Linked DNA regions of Homo sapiens: region 2 is linked to region 1. Evidence: fine-mapped expression QTL. A gene starts in region 1. The other region holds a variant in brackets. All regions are shown on one strand. Distances are from middle to middle.

Region 1 (8,323 bases):
TTTAAAGTAACGGATTGGGTGAACCTGTTCTGGAACTTCATGTAAATAGAATTAAGCAGTATGTAACTCTTTTGCATCTGTTTTCTTTTACTCAGGCTAATATTCTTGAGGGTCATCCGGATTATTGTGTGAATCAGTAGTTTGTTCCTTTTTACTGCTAAATTATATTCCATAGGCCAGGATCACTCTGCTGGGTGGAGAAGAGATGGGCCCTGCCAGGGCTCAGAGACTCAGGTGAATGCACCACAGGGAGATGGACAGCCTTTTCTTAGGAATTTCTAGAATGCGAAGTCTGTGGCATCAGTCTCCCCAAAAATCTGGGAAAACAGAACTACATCAGGAGAATCTAGCATGACCAAGCATCCCTGTTTGCCCAGGACTTTCTTGGTTTTAGCACTGCAGGTTCCATGTCCCAGGAGACACCCCAGTCTTGAGCAAACTGGGATGGCTGATCACCATCACCCTAGCAGGATCCTGCCACTGCCCTTGGGGCTTCCGGACCCTTTTCACACAAGATTACATTCTGTTCCTCCTACAGAATGATTTTCCTTAAACTCTAAACTGGGCTCCTCTCCTGTTCTAAAACTTCCCATGGCTCCCCATGGCTGAGCCTGGCAACTGAAAGCACGTAGTCTCTGGTAGTGTGCATACTGGAATCACCTGGGGAATCATTTAAATATTCTGATGGCTGCCTTCTACCCTTGACATTTTTTTTTTTTTTTTTGAGACGGAGTCTCGCTTTGTCACCCAGGCTGGAGTGCAGTGGCACGATCTCAGCTCACTGCAACCTCTGCCTCCCGGGTTCAAGTGATTCTTCTGCCTCAGCCTCCTGAGTAGCTGGGATTACAGGTGCGTGCCACCACGCCCAGCTAATTTTTGTATTTTTAGTAGAGACTGGGTTTCACCATGTTGGTCAGGCTGGTCTCAAGCTCCTGACCTCGTGATCCACCCACCTCGGCCTCCCAGAGTGCCAGGATTACAGGCGTGAGCCACCACGCCCAGCCACCCCAGACATTTTTGTTTTTTTTGAAATAGAGTCTCGCTCTGTCGCCCAGGCTGGAGTGCAGTGGCACGATCTCGGCTCATTGCAACCTCTGCCTCCTGGGTTCAAGTGATTCTCCTGCCTCAGCCTCCCGAGTAGCTGGGACTACAGGCGCGTGCCACCACACCCAGCTAATTTTTTTAAATTTTTTTATTTTTAGTAGAGACGGGGTTTCACCGTGTTAGCCAGGATGGTCTCAATCTCCTGACCTTGTGATCCGTCTCCCTCGGCCTCCCAAAGTGCTGGGATTACAGGCATGAGCCACCACACCCGGCCCCACCCCAGACATTTTACATTGGTATCATGTGCAACCTGGGCCCTGGGATTTTTTGTTTTGTTTTGTTTTTTTGAGTCTTGAGTTTAGCTCTATCGCCCAGGCTGCAGTGCAGTGGCATGATCTTGGGTCACTGCAACCTCCGCCTCCCAGGTTCAAGCCATTCTCGTGCCTCAGCCTCCCAAGTAGCTGGGATTACAGGTGCCTGCCACCACACCCGGCTAATTTTTGTATTTTTAGTAGAGATGGGGTTTCACCATGTTGTCCAGGCTGGTCTCGAACTCCTGACCTCAGGTGATCCACCCGCCTTGGCCTCCCAAAGTGCTGAGATTACAGGCATCAGCCACTGCGCCCGGCCAAGGGCCCTGGGATTTTTACAAGCTCCTCAGGTGATGCTAACATGCTGCAAAGCTTGGAGCTGTGAGCCTGTGAATGTGATTTGTTTGGCTTACATGGTGTTGAACATGTTGGCAACATTAAAATCAAGTGATTTCATATAAAAATCTGGACTAGGCTGGGCGCGGTGGCTCACGCCTGTAATCCCAGCACTTTGGGAGGCCGAGGCGGGTGGATCACGAGGTCAGGAGATCGAGACCATCCTGGCTAACACGGTGAAACCCCATCTCTACTAAAAATACAACAAATTAGCTGGGCGCGGTGGCGGGTGCCTGTAGTCCCAGCTACTCGGGAGGCTGAGGCAGGAGAATGGCCTGAACCCAGGAGGCGGAGCTTGCAGTGAGCCGAGATAGTGCCACTGCACTCGGGCCTGGTGAAAGAGCGAGACTCCGTCTCAAAAAAAAAAAAAAAATCTGGACTCAGGCCGGGTGACGTGCCTCACACTGTAACCCCAGCACTTTGGGAGGCTGAGGCAGGAGGACTGCTTGAGCCTAGGAGTTGAGGCTACAGTGAGCTATGTGTTGCTACCCTTCAACCTGCGCGACAGAGCAAGATCCTGTCTCTACCAAAAATAAAAAAAGAAATCTGGACTCCAGCTACCCTTGAAAGCAGATATTCTGAGATACTGAGTTTGCCTCCTGGAGTGGTCATGGGGCGGAGGTTGGTGGGGTAGGGGGGTAGGGGGTGCAGAACACTGACTGCCCTGGGGGCGGAGTCTCTGCCCTTCAGTCCCCGCAATCCCTACCGCTCCCTGGTGTTCCACTCTCCTCCTTGCTGTTCACTTGCATGGCCTCCAGGCTAATGGCTGAGTTTTGCGGCCAGGCATTTCAGGCCTCCCAGCCTTGGCCTCTGCTCACCTTCTCCACCTCCTCACTCCCTGCTCTAGTCATCTTCATCTCATGTCCTGCCCTCCAGCCACATGGGCTTCTTGGTCCCTTCCACACCTGTTTTTGCCCATGGAGTTCTCCCACCAAGTTCCTTATGGTAGAAAAGCCCCTGCTGGATTTGGCCCCTGCCCACCTCTCCTGCCCCTTTCCCCAAGCTTTCTTCCAACTCATGCATAGAACTTCTACCACAAGGAAGCTGGCCAGGCTGTTAGCACTCCCGTTCCCTCTGTCTGTGAAGCCCTTTCCTTCCCTCCACCCTCCCCTTCTCTCTCTTATCTCAGGCTTTGGGTTTGATTTCACCTCCTCCAAGGTTCCCTGACCTTCAAACTAGGTCAGGTCCCTGGTTAGTCACTATACTTCCTCTTTCTCACCTCCTTCATCTCACTTCCCCTGCTAGAATAAGGCCACATCTGTCTCATAATCTCTGTCTTCCTAGGGCCTAGTGTGGTGCCTGGCATACAGTAGGTGCTCATTAATGATAAATGAATGAAAGCAAGCACATCTCCCTTTCTCTACTGGCAAAATCCTAATCCTTTTCTGGTTACATTTCTCCTGTAGCATCCAATTCTGTTCTCGAGACCCAAAAGATCCCTGAGGTCCTGTGATCAATGGAGTTTTAGCTCAGGTCCATTTCACAGTGGGCCCAGGGGATCCCCAGATTCATCCGTGGTTATTTCCCCAGGCACAGAGTGAGTGCACTGGTGGCACAGGCATACCCAGCAAGTGGCATAATCCCCCCCATTAGTTAACTGGGTGTCGCTGTGCATGGCTGTGAAGGCAGGGATGCACCTGGCTGGTGACCCCAGAACCCCTCCGGGTACGGCACAAGGGCAGAGCCCAAGAACTTACTTTCTGTCCTCTTGCATTTGCCTGTGGATTTGCAGTTGGTAATGGCGTTCTTGCCCGGCCCTCCTTTGTTCCTCCAGGCAGCCAGGCAGCTGTGGCGTAGTGAAAGGGCAGGATGCGGGATAGGAATGGAGTTATTCCTGATTCAGACTGATTTGCTCTAACTGTGATTTGGGGCAAGTCCCTTCCCCTGTCTAGACCTTAGCTGGCTGCCGCATCTAAAAAATGGAGCCAATAATCTTTTCCTCGTCTTTGGGGTCATCCATCTTTCAACCACATCAGGAGCAGCGGGAACCAAGTGCAGAGGATGGCCTTAAAAGCAGTATGGGAACCAAATTTTTGTAAAGTAAATATTTTCAACCTTTATATTTTGGAATCACCAGCGGTATTTATTACGTGCACTCTAGGAAATGGAGGCAATGCAATGCCAAAAACAGAAAGTAAAACTGCTGTCCTGTGCCGCGGCCCGGTGGAGGTTTTAATGTCTGTATCTTAAGATCTGGTGAGGGCACGGGTAGGTGCGGCTGGACTGAGTGAAACCAGCCCCGCTGGGCGCCTGGGCCCTTGTCTCAGGGCTGTGCTCGCAGTGGAGGCATCTGCAGCTCGGCACCCAGAGGCCCCGCGACCCTTCCAACCTTTGTGACGCTCCGCGGAGACAAAGGCCGGCGGCGCAGCCTTGGGAAGGGTTAAGGCCACAGACGCAGCCCTGCGCGTGCTAGAGCGGCCGGTGGCGGACTTCCGGTTGGGGCGCGGGCGCGCGCCGCGTGTTCCCGACCCGCCGAGGCTGAGACCTCGGGCAACCTCAGCAGTGCGCAGGGCTGCACTGTCTCCGTCTGCGGCCTGCAGTAAGCGGGTAGGGGATATGTCGCGTGGCCTCGCCTGGTCTGCGGCGGGAAACTCGCATCTAGGCCAGACCCTCCCGCAGGGTCCGCACTCGCGATCTGGGCTGTGGGCAGCATCGTGGCCCCTCGGGGCGTTATAGGGGCGTGAGGATCCCGGGCGAGCTGGGGGCGGGCGGCTTCTTCAGCTCCCTTGCGCCATGGAACCCACTGTATGCCCGTTATGCAGTCAGGAAAGATGAGGCCGGGAAGGAGGGCGTTACGCTGCAACCCCGGAGACCAGCTGTCCCTCGCGTTGCCGCAGTCGGCAGAGGCGTGGCCGGAGCCATTCCCGGTCTCCAGTGCGGCTGCAAGAGCGGGCGCCCGAGGGCGTTCTGCTCCGGGCCTCCACCCGCGAGCTGACCGTGTCAGGCGCGCCACACACGGCGCTTCTCATTCTCTCTCCACCTCGCGAGGCAGAAGCTGCCGTTCCCGTGTCACAGACAGAAAAACAGTCTGGGGTGATTTATCCGGAGTCAAGACTCAGGTCTGTGGCTCAGTCGGGAAGGATAGAAACCCAAGCTTCCTCCGAATGGTTCAGAGACCCGACCAAGTTAAATAATAATGGCCCTGGCTCAGGGGTCTTTAAGTCTTCCCCCCGCCCTCCCCTTTTGTTTTTGTTTTGTTTTGAGACCGCCTCACTGTCCCCCAGGCTGGAGTGCAGCGGTGCGATCTCCGCTCACTGCAGCTTCGACCTCCCGAGGGCTCAGGTGATCCTCCCACCTCAACCTCAGGAGTGTCTGGGACTACAAACACGCGCCACCACGCCCGGCTAATTTTTCTGTTTTTTGTAGAGTCAGGATCTCGCTATGTTGTCCAGGCTGGTCTGGAACTCCTGGGCTCAAGCGATCCTCCTGCCTCGGCCTCTGAAAGTGCTGGGATTACAGGCATGAGCCACCGCACCTGGCTACCCTTTAATTAACTCAAGGAGTTTAATAATTGAATTTAGGCTGGGCTCAGTGGCTCACGCCTGTAATCCTAGCACTTTAAGAGGCCACGTCGGGCAGATCACTTGAGGTCAGGAGTTCAAGACCAGTCTGGCCAACATGGTGAAACCCTGTCTCTACTAAAAATACAAAAATTAGACGGATGTGGTGCCACACACCTGTAATCCCAGCTACTCGGGAGGCTGAGGCAGGAGAATCCCTTGAACCCGGGAGGCAGAGGTTGCAGTGAGCCAAGATCGCACCACTGCACTCTAGCCTGGGCCACAGAGCAAGAATCTGTCTCAAAAAAAAAAAAAAAGGTTTGACACCTATACCTTCCTCTGTGTGTGTGTGTGTGTGTGTATACATATATCTATATATATATGTATATAGAGAGAGGAGGAAAAATTATATAATTTTTCTATATGTGTGTGTGTGTATATATATCTGTACAATTTTTTTTTTTTTTGAGACAGTGTAGCTCTGTGGCCCAGGATGGAGTGCAGGGACTCGATCTCGGCTCACTGCAACCTCCGCCTCCCAGGTTCAAGCGATTCTCCTGCCTCAGCCTCCCGAGTAGCTGGGATTACAGGCTGCTGCTACCATGCCTGGGTAATTTTTGTATTTTTAGTAGAGACAGGGTTTTGCTATGTTGCCCAGGCTGGTCTGGAACTCCTGAGCTCAAAAGTGATCTGCCTGCCCCAGCCTCCCCAAATGCTGGGATTACAGGTCTGAGCCATCACACCCGGCCCATATATACGTATTTTAAAATAACACCTTTACTGAGAGAGATGACTCACACACCATACAACTCACCCATTTAAAGTGTACAGTTCAATGATTCTTAGTATCTTCACAGTTTTGCAAATATCACCACAGTCAATTTTAGAACATTTTCATTACCCCTAAAAGAAACCATACCCATTAACAGTAACTCCCAAGCCTTCCTCCCACTACAGCTCTAGACTACTGCAAATCTACTTTCTGTCTCTATAGAGTTGATTATTTTGGACATTTCATATTAGGGCTTTATGTGGCCTTTTTTGACTGAGATAACCTTTTTGTTGTTGTTTTTAACAAAATCAACTCCTTGAGCTCAGAGCCCTGGCCTATAATCATAGCCAGCTAGAACTGAACAGCATTGTTTTGGTTTTATTGTATCTATTTTTACCACTCTTGGGTACATGATAATTTCTCATTTATGGCAGTGGTTAAAGTTTCCTTTTGAATACACCTAGTTCCATCAAAACGTGAGTTGATAATTTTTAAAGAACAAGATTAAGTAAACAGAAGTAGAGGTGGTCCACAAATTTGTCAGAGGTTGGGAAGATGGGATGTGAATGAAGTTTGGCAAACACTGGATTGTCTGATTTACGGTTCTCCAGGTCATCATTTGAAAACCACCCTCACCTTATTCTTTCATTGCATTTTCCTGACAACTCCTGTAAAGAAGTGCATGATTTTACCGATGAAGAAACAGGTTCAGAGAAGTCAGGTACAATTACTTGTCCAGTGTCACACAGCTAGTGACAGAAGCTAGGCTTAACCAAGTCTGTCTGATTGCCAAAACTACCTACTTACCAAGTCTGGAAGTAGGATAGGGGGTGGGGAATGGACTAGCAGGCTTGAGAGGGGACTCTGGCCACTACCCAAAACATGCGGGCACCAGGCTGCCTGAGTTGTTTTGGGTACCTCTTCTAACAAATATTCAAATATTTCTATGAAACAATTTATGACTCTAAACAGAAATCCCATCTCATTTGCCACTGGGGCTTTCACCCTCTCTCAACGGCACACCGCAGTTCAGGAAGTGCTGCCTGCCTGGAGAATGAGGGTGTGTGTGAACGTGCGTGCTGGTGGTGAGGAGAGTCTGATCTCTAGTTCATCTTGGTTGCTACTGGCATCACTTTCCAAGCCCACAGGGGTCCCTTACACTCCATGACTTCTGCCCTATTCCACCTGTGGGCACCAGAGTCTCTAGGCTGGCTGGGATTACCTGCATATAGGGTCCCATGTTTCTGGAATGTCAGGCCGCCACCTGCTCTCAGGACTGACCACTTTCCTGGAGCACAGCCGCAGGGTATTCACCATGACTCCCTCTCTCCCCTTCCTGGCCAAGGACTTTCCCACCTCTTGCCATCATCTTCATCAGAACTCTGCCTCCTCCCTCAGACCCTATTCCTCATCTTATTCTTTCCCTGTGGGCTTTAACTGACCATTAAATTCAGAACCCATTCCAATAACACGAATATCCTTTTCCAGAGAGAGCTTAATTTTATACCTTAATTTTTGAAATTATAGCATATAGAAGATAAGCAAAACAACCAGGTCCTGCCATGCTCTTGTTCAACACCGATTTAACTCAGTCCACCTCTCTCACAGCTGTGCAATTCAACTTGACCCAAACTTGAGGCTAAGCACCTCCAGACAGGATGATTAGGGTCCATCTGGTCTCACTCAACTTAGGTGAGAATCTCAACCCTAAATCCAAGCAATTATCTGAGTAATTCTGGACCCTATAAAACAAAATAGTGGCCGGGTGCGATGGCTCACACCTGTAATCCCAGCACTTTGGGAGGCCAAGGTAGGCAGATCACCTGAGGTCAGGAGTTCAAGACCAGCCTGGCCAACATGGTGAAACCCTGTCTCTACTAAAAATGCAAAAATAAGCCAGGTGTGGTGGTGCCTGCCTGTAGTCCCAGCTACTCAGGAGGCTGAGGCAGGAGAATCACTGGAACCCGGGAGGTGAAGGTTGCAGTGAGCCAAGATCGTACCACTGCACTCCAGCCTGGGCGACAGAGTGAGACTCAGTCTCAAAAAAAAAAGCTAACATTGAGCTAGGTGAATATTCTCAGAGCACTACATGCATAATCTTACAAAATCATTTCAATAACTTAGTGAGGTAAGTACTCTTATTATTTCCACTTGACAGATGAGAAAAGCAAGGCACAGAGAAGTGAAGTCACTTGTCCCATAGTATATAATAGAGGCAGATCTGAATCCGTATCATCTGACTTCAGAGTGTGTACCCTCAAACACAGAGTTCAGATGAGGCTAACTCCAGCCATCGTTTA
Region 2 (8,323 bases), 110 kb after region 1:
GCAGGGCCATGGGAGGCAGGGCCAGACGTGGCAGCAGGCCTCCCTTACATCCCCAGCATACACTCCACCCCAAGCACCCCGTGCAGGGCAATGATCGATTCTGACACCCCAAACCAAGTACTTTCCTAAGGGCTCCCAGAAAAATGGGAGAAAATTCAATACTGCATGGTCGGTGCTGGGAACTAAGGCTCTTAACTGATGGGGAGTCACGGAAGGCATTCCAGAAAGGCCTAAAGTGCTAATAAAGGGAAAAAGGGCACAGTGACCACCAGATGCCAACTGACTCCAACTCACTCTTAGCTCTCTCTTCTGTGCTTTATCTTTGTGGTACTCATAACACACTGATATGCTATTTTACTGATTTCTTGTCTGTTACCACAAGTAGAACCTAAAGATATATTCTTTTATTTATTTCTTGTCTGGTCCATGAAAGTTTTGACCTCTATTTTGTTCTCGCCAATATGCCTAGTGCCTAGCACTAAGTGTTCAAAAATCTACTCAACAAGTATATGAATGCATGAAAAAAAGAGCAGCAGGAGTGACCAGGAAGGGCCTCAGAGATGGATGTTTGTCCTTTGTCCTGAGGGGAATTTCAAGAGTGCAACAGAGAAGAGGTTGTGAGAAGGGGTGGGAGGAAAACGCCGCTCACCTTCTGCATGCTGAGTGTGATCTGGCCCCCCTGGAAGCCTGAGGAGCTCCCAGATACATAGTAGCCAGAGTTAAGCTGTGGAGAGAAAACAGACAGGCAATGGATGTAGAGGGGAGGAGCTAAGGCCCAAGGGCCCAGCCTTGCCTCACCTGCCCCAGCACCCCTGCCCCACCTGCTCTAAGGCCTCTGCCAGGTGCTTATTGAGCTTTTGCTCTCGCTTCCGCAGCTTCTCGATGTCCCACTGCAAGTCCTCCACTGTTGTCTCCATCTCCAGCACCTTGGTCTCTGCCGATGTCACTTTATCCTGGAGCTCGGAGTACTGGGAACAATGAGGGAGCAGATGCTTGGATGGGGGACTTGGTTCCTGAGGTCCCTGAGTGCCCATCTAACCCAAATCCTGCCTGATTCTAATCACACCCCCAAAGCCCCCGGCTCCTCACCTCCAATGAGATGCGGTGGTGTTTCTCCTGCAGCTGAGTGGCCAAGTCCTGCAGTCGCCGGTTCTCACGGCCCAGCTCTCGGGTGTGTGCCTGAGCCGCCTCACTGAGGGGCTCACTGTCCCCTGGGAAGGCAGGGCCCAGGTAAGAGCCCAGCTCAGGGCAATGGGGCAAACAACTAACTCATTCTGGAGTCTGCTATATACCCAGTGTGATCCACCAGCTGTCTTGCCCATTTCTCATGACAAAGCCAGGAGTCTTTATCCCCACTGCACAGAGAAGGAAACCAGCTCAGAGAGGGGAGCCACTTTCCCAGCATGTCCAGGTGAGGGTGGCAGAACTAAGGTGGGAGAAGCCTGTCAACCTACAAGGCCTGAGCCCTTGAAGCTATGCCTTGTGGATCCGCAACCCACACCAAGTGCTCCAGAGGGGCCTCTGGCCAGGAGCCTCTACCGGCATCAACAACTCCTCCAACCCATCTCTCTAGCATTCAATCCCGGAATCAAAGTTGGAACCCCCATCTACAGCCTAACCTACCTCTTCCAAGAACATGGCTGATTTATTCCTTGGGAAATTCTGGCCGCCCTTGGACTCGGGCATTAGGGGAATCAGGAAGGGGTGCCATCAAGATGCAGGTGGGGATGGACACCCCTTCAGTATGGGCACAAAGAACCCACCTCGGCTGTACACTCGCTGACAGAGTTCCTCCACCCGGCGCTGTAGGCGGTCTGAGGCCTCTACCACACGAGACACAGCTGCCTTGGAGAACTCCATTCGGCCTTGCAGCTCCAGCTCCACCTCCTCACTGCTGCTGGCACCCAGTGCCACCACAAAAGCCAAGGCCGGCTCACTGAGAGGGGGCCGCAGCTGCATCAGCAAGGGGTCTGGAAGGAATGGACAGACCCTCATGAGGATAAGAGCAGCAGTTACTACCACTCTGTACCAAGTTCCAGACTGAGCCCTTCAATACTCATGGTTCACTTAATCAACACAACCTATAGTGCACTATTATCTCCATCCTGAAAGTGAGACAAATGAAATTCAGGGAGGTAAAGTAATTTCCTCAAAGCTACAGAGTTGCGTATCACATCCTCAGGGAAGCTTCCTGTACTTTACCAATATAATTAGAATCACACGCACATGCATGCACACACAATCATTCCGTTTCAGGAGCCCCAGTACTTTCTGCTTACTATGTTTATAATTTCCTCCCTTATAGCAAGTGCAACACTCATTTCTAGGAAGCGTCAAATACATATTTAATACTCAACCATAATACTGTTTTGAAACAAATGGGTGTCAAAACATGAATTGCTCTATAAACCAAGTTAGTCAGAGTCTAAAGCCTGTGTTTTTGTGCACTGCACTTTACTGCCCAAACATGAAATCCATTTCGTGAGAAGTAGTAAGATAGGCAATTCAGGGGCCCAACACCAAAGTCCCCTCCTCCCCAGGACTTCTCCCAGAACTTAAGCTCCCCAGATCCCAGCACTCTGGTCCTACCTCTCAGCTCTGATGTCCCCGGCTCTGGGAGAGGAGTCCCATCACATGTTGGCCCCTCCTGGGTCCCAGGTGCCTCAGGCGCTGAAGACAGCTCCCCCTGGCTCTCATGGCATCGGAGAAGGGCTTCCACAGTTTCATCCAGCTGGAAGGAGAAAACATCAAAAATGTTATGAATCCCTTAGTGCTTTCCAACATGATACTCCTTTCCTAGCAGGGGAATCTGGGGATTGGCAGCTGAATCAAGGCCTGGTCTTTGAAAGCAGAAGGTATCCACCTGGGCCCAGTAGCGATTGACGATGAGGAGTGTGGCATCATCTGTGGCCTGCCGCTTCTCCAACTTCTCAATTCGTTCTCGGAGTTCATCTTCACAAGCCTGCCGTTGTTCCAGCCGCTCTGCCAGTTTCTTGTTCTTGAACTGTAGTACCTTCAGGTCCATCTCCTCCTACCAAAGGAAACAAAGGGGCCGACGAGAGCGTCAAGCAGGGCCCACAAACCAATCACAGAGAGAGAAAGAGGAGCAGAGCATCTGCAATGCATGGGAGATGGAGGTATTCCCACACTAACCGCTAACAGAATCTAAGGAGGCTCAGACAACACACAGCGAAAGTGTCTTTGTTGTGAGGAGGCTCACGTTGTTTCTGCCTGTCCCCTTGTAAATCCTTAGTCTTTGACAAGTCACACGCCCCCTGGAAACCTGTTTTCCTATCTGTAAAGGGAAGACAGGCGTCGTGTTCTGAGCTTCTTTCTAACCTTTCTTTCAAGGTCCTGTAACGCGGACCTTGCTAAACTTGGGGAAGTGGGTGTAAGATTCCGCACAGTTTGGCCAGAGAACAGAGGGAGGGCTCTGGGAAGTTCTGAGGGTTAAGGCAAGAGCCCACGAACCGTGGAAGAGATGCCTCCAAGACGAATGGGCTCGATAAGAGTCGTGGTGGTCTTCTCCTCACGACTCAGCTTCTTTTCCGGGGGCCCTGAGCCCCCGTCGCCGGCGGCGCGTTTGTTGCCTGGCCCAGACATGGCCGCGGCGGCTGGAGCGATGCAGGGTCCCCTGAGGGGCGTCAAACGGGAGGAGGCGGTACTTCCGTCACCTGCAGAAGACACAGAGCAGAGATGTGGGAACGGCTGGTGTTCCACAGCCCCAAACACCCTCCACCCTGCACACACCTGCTGGATCCCGTCCCCCCCGGCGCCAGAGCCCTCACCAGCAGGAGGGTCAGCCTAGCGCCGCCATCTTGGATTTCACCGGACGTCACTGGGCGTCACTGGACGCCACTGCCCCCCCCCCAACGGTGCGCAGGGCGCAGGCGCCAAAGGCAGCCCCGGATGTGAGGAAACTTCTTTATCTTCTGCTTCTATTGGTTACGCTTGGTCCCGCCACTCGGGTCCTCTGGCTTCTTCCCAAACACCTCCTCTTTCTCTCGGTGATTGGCCAAGAGGCAGTTCCCATAGTAACTGACACCGCGCTCCCACTTCCCAGCCTGGAGGACAGCACCGGCCCTCGTATTAGCAACCTGGAAGAGAGGGCGCCCAGGTGGGCACTCGCAACTTCTCACGTATCTGCGCGTTCTCTT[C/T]GCTCCCACTGGCGTGAGCCTGCGCTTTCCGCCTTCCTTCCCTCACAAGCCCCCTTGGCAACCGTCGCCGTTGAGACGGAGGGAGACGCCCCCACGGATTCGCCCCGCCGCGCCTCTCCGCGCGTAGATTGGCCGGAGCGAGGCGAACGGGCCCGGCCTTGGTAGCCGCCGACCGAGCGCTGGCTGTCCTGGAACCTAGGCGGCGGGAGCCCGGGGCGCCTCGCGGCACGGAAGAGCGGCGAGATGCTCAACCGCAAGACCAGCCACTTTTTGGGAATGAGGGTGCAGTCGGAGCTTGAACATCTCTCCGAGCTGCGGCGGGAAGCGGGGAAGGATCGCAGCTCAGTGCATGGGTCGGCCGCGCGGACGCGTGCGAGTGTGCGGACTCAGTGGACGACGGCGGCGGCGGCGAAAGCGGATGAAGACCCCGGAGCCAACTTGTTTCCGGTGAGGGCGGGACAGTCTGGTCTGCTCGTGAATATTTATAAACCGGCTCCCCCGCAGGCGCCACCTGTCATTATGCTTACTAACGTTCGGGACGTCTCCCGGGCTGCTTGGGCGAGGAGAGGCAGGGGTGTGTGACCCCGGTGGTTACTGTGCTCGCGTAGAGCACCTAGGGCCTGCTGAAGCCCTCCCTCGCCCGCGCCTCTCCTTAGTCCTTGAGATGAGATGGCAAGTTACAGCGGCTTCTCCGGCCTGCTGGAGATTCGCTACGGGCCAGGACACCGCAGCTGCCTTCCCCAATTCGCTTTCTTTCCGCAGCCGCCGCTGCCCCGACCCCGGATCTGCATGTGGTGAGTGTGAAGAGACAAAAATTACACTGAATATTTGCGTTCTTTATTGTCTCCCCAACAGTCCTGTCTGTGGCCAGGGCATCCCCATTTTACAGATGAGACTGAGGCCTGGAGATGCAATTACTCCAGGTGACTGGAAGTTGGCTTTCCAGCCTCTCCAGTCCAAAGAGGAGGCAGTGTGAGAAAAAAAGAGCCAAAGACAGAATGTAAATGGAGTCTCATGGCCGCTAAGGAGTATTGTACAGAGGGGGACACTGAGGGCCACAGGGAGTACTTGACCAAGGTCATACAAGGTAGTGGCAGAGCAGAAAAAAGAATTCAAGATTCCTAACCCTAGGCTTTAGAAATGGAGAGGCTCATAAGAGTTCATTTAGGCCCAGAGAGTTAACGATTTGCATAGTCACACAGCAAGCTGGCAAAAGAGCCCAGCTTCACGCCGGTGGCCAACTCCCAGTCTCACGCACTAGCTGTCACAGCCTTGTCATGATAGGTAACGGCCACCAATACTCTTTTTCTTTTACTATAACAGGAAGTACCTGGACGTCCATTCCATGCACCAGCTGGAGAAGACCACCAATGCTGAGATGAGGGAGTAGGGACTGAGGGGGGCGTGGGAAGAGCTCTTGGCAAAGGCTGAGGGGTCAGGTTGGGAAAACATGAGGAATGGCTGACTCCAAAGCATGTGGTGGGTGTAGGGTGATGAAAGGAGGCCCAGTTGTCACTCACTCCTCTCTCCCTCCCAAGGGTGCTGGCTGAGCTGCTGGAGCTAGGGTGTCCTGAGCAGAGCCTGAGGGACGCCATCACCCTGGACCTCTTCTGCCACGCGCTCATTTTCTGCCGCCAGCAGGGCTTCTCACTGGAGCAGACGTCAGCGGCTTGTGCCCTGCTCCAGGATCTTCACAAGGCTTGTATTGGTGAGAGGGGGCAGCTACCAGGTTTGAGCCCCAGGGAGAAGAGGAACCGGGCCTGGCACAAGTGACCATGGGAAGCAGAAGCAGGGGATTTCTGCCTGGAATATGTCATTATTAGTAGCATCATCATACACAAGCCATCAGCTTTCCAATCCACTGCTTCCTTATCTAGAAATTAAGGATACAGCACACATTTTACAGGACTGTTCTGAGAAATAATATATGCAAATATATGCATAGTGCACAATAACACCTGCTTTAGAATGTTTAATAGCTCTTGCTTCAGAATGTTTAATAGCTGAAATGATCTATTTCTTGGTTTATTCCCCTAGAATATAAGCTTCGTAAGGGCAGGACCTTGTCTGTCTTGTTCAGTGCCGAAAACCATACAGTGGGCATATAGTGGGTATTCAGTATTTGTTACATGAGTTAAGGAAACAAGCCAGTGCTGAAACCCAGATCTGTCTGCTTCTGAAGCTCATGGTCATAAACAGCTGTTGAGTGAAGTGAATGAATGGATACCAGAGAGGGCCTCACTGCTGCATCTTGCTTTCCCTACCAGCAACCCCCTTGGGCAACGTGGAGGAGTGCTACCGCTACTTCACCAGTGTCCTTTTTTGCCATGGAGTCAGGGTCAGTTCCCCTGGAACATTCTGGAAACTTTACCCATCCCCAGACAAGGTCTCACCCAGTCTCTCTCACATTCATCACCCTTATCTTCTTGTGAAGACCCCAGTGGGCTCTCCTTGCTCCTGTTGCTGGGCTTTTGGAGGCAAAGCCAGGGCTCCGGAAGGTAGTCAGGGTTCTAATTCCGAGTCACCACCACAGCGGCCTCCTTTCAGCATCGACCTCTTCAAAGAGGAACAGCTGCTGGCCTTGGAAGACTACGTGGTCAACACTTACTTCCGCCACTTCAAGCTCTATAAATACGTCTTCACACCCCAGGTAGGGGGTGGTGGACCATGAGGAGCCACCCTCAACCGCCCCTCCCCTCAGCACAGGTGCACTCCTTTCAGCCTCCCTCTGCCTTGCTTCCCAGGTGCGGCTGGATCTGTCTTTGACTTACATGGGGCTACAGCCACCCAAACTGTGGCCAGAGAGTGAGACGGGTAAGGGAGAGTGCCAGGGCAGGGCTGGGCTGGGCCAGGCCTGGGGCCACAGTCTCTTCCTGCTTCTGGTTTGCAGAGAAAGAAGAAAGCAAGGAGATGGAGGAGCAGGCAGTTACCCCGCAGAAAGAGGAACTAGAGACAGTGGCCCCACCAGAGCCAGAGCCAAGTGAGGATCTGGAGAGGGCAGGCTGCCCTGTCCCTCTGAGCAGGTGTAGAATGAAGGGTTTGGATGACATCAGGACTTCAGACTTTTTGTTTTTAGTCAGAGTCCTTTCTCTAAATGATCCCTTATGCAGAAGTCCAAGATGACAGATAAAAGCACAGCTGCAGGCCAGGCGTGGTGGCTCACACCTGTAATCCCAGCACAATCTGAGGCAGGCGGATTGCCTGAGCTCAGGAGTTCGCGACCAGCCTGGGCAACACCGTGAAACCCCCTATCTACTAAAATACAAAAAATAGCCAGGCATGGTGGTGCGCGCTTGTAGTCCCAGCTACTCAGGAGGCTGAGGCAGGAGAACTGCATGAACCCAGGAGGTGGAGACTGCAGTGAGCCAAGATCTGGCCACTGCACTCCAGCCTGGGCAACAGAGCAAGACTCTGTCTCAAAACAAACAAACAAACAAACAAAAAGCACAGCTGAAGTGGCTCCAGAGAAATGATCATTAGAAAGCCAATGACGGTGGCTTAAAACCTATATGATGGGTTGATGGGTAAAGCAAACCACCATGGCCCATGTATACCTACGTAGCAAACCTGCATGTTCTGCTCGTATCCCAGAACTTAAGAGTTAAAAAAAAACAAAGAACAGGCCAGGTGCAGTGGCTCACAACTGTAATCCCAGCACTTTGGGAGGCTGAGGCAGGCGGATCACGAGGTCAGGAGATCGAGTCCATCCTGGCTAACACTGTGAAACCCCGTCTCTACTAAAAATACAAAAAGTTAGCCGGGCGTGGTGGCGGGTGCCTGTAGTCCCAGCTACTGGGAGGCTGAGGCAGGAGAATGGCATGAACCTGGGAGGCAGAGCTTGCAGTGAGCTGAGATCGCTGCCACTGCACTCCAGCCTGGGGGATAAAGCAAGACTCCATCTCAAAAAAAAAAAAAAAAAGAGAAAGCCAATGACAATAACAGCCAGCACATACTTGGCAATAGGTGTGCAGTGCATGCCCTGCTCTAAGCATTTTACATAAATTAACTCATTTAATCCTCCCTCAATCCTATGTGCTAGGTATCACTATCCACATTTCATACAAGGAAACTGAGGCACAGATAGGTTAAATAACCTGCCTAAGGTCACACAGCTACTGAGTAGGGATCAGAATTTGAAGCTGCAAAGTCCAGCATAGCCACCCTAC

Evidence for each region.
Region 2: its variant is fine-mapped to the expression of MIR762HG in skeletal muscle (GTEx, PIP above 0.99). The same link has a PIP of 0.9 or more in breast, liver, lung and whole blood.

Annotation. Positions count from the first base shown.
Region 1 is chr16:30,871,244-30,879,566 of GRCh38, reverse strand. MIR762HG (MIR762 host gene) reads right to left here and starts at 4,107. Exons shown (of 3, transcript NR_110942.1): 1 at 4,081-4,107; 2 at 3,449-3,537. It overlaps MIR4519 (microRNA 4519), which reads left to right and starts at 4,244; the gene lies at 4,244-4,301. It also overlaps a transcript of BCL7C not described here. RefSeq lists a silencer at 3,335-3,394 and enhancers at 3,715-3,764, 3,795-4,004, 3,314-4,068, 4,275-4,534, 4,069-4,823 and 1 more.
Region 2 is chr16:30,757,826-30,766,148 of GRCh38, reverse strand. It overlaps PHKG2 (phosphorylase kinase catalytic subunit gamma 2), which reads right to left. Exons shown (of 10, transcript NM_000294.3): 10 at 4,973-8,323. It overlaps CFAP119 (cilia and flagella associated protein 119), which reads left to right and starts at 4,087. Exons shown (of 9, transcript NM_001014979.3): 1 at 4,087-4,604; 2 at 4,920-4,951; 3 at 5,481-5,543; 4 at 5,696-5,865; 5 at 6,425-6,495; 6 at 6,691-6,807; 7 at 6,902-6,971; 8 at 7,048-7,137. The coding sequence starts at 4,401. RNF40 (ring finger protein 40) reads right to left here and starts at 3,827. Exons shown (of 20, transcript NM_014771.4): 1 at 3,789-3,827; 2 at 3,472-3,674; 3 at 2,864-3,031; 4 at 2,590-2,731; 5 at 1,764-1,970; 6 at 1,090-1,211; 7 at 822-968; 8 at 650-724. The coding sequence starts at 3,603. RefSeq lists enhancers at 1,371-1,871, 1,872-2,372, 3,509-3,618, 3,739-3,998, 3,486-4,123 and 4 more and a silencer at 4,535-4,764. The variant C/T (reference allele first, on the strand shown) is at 4,158.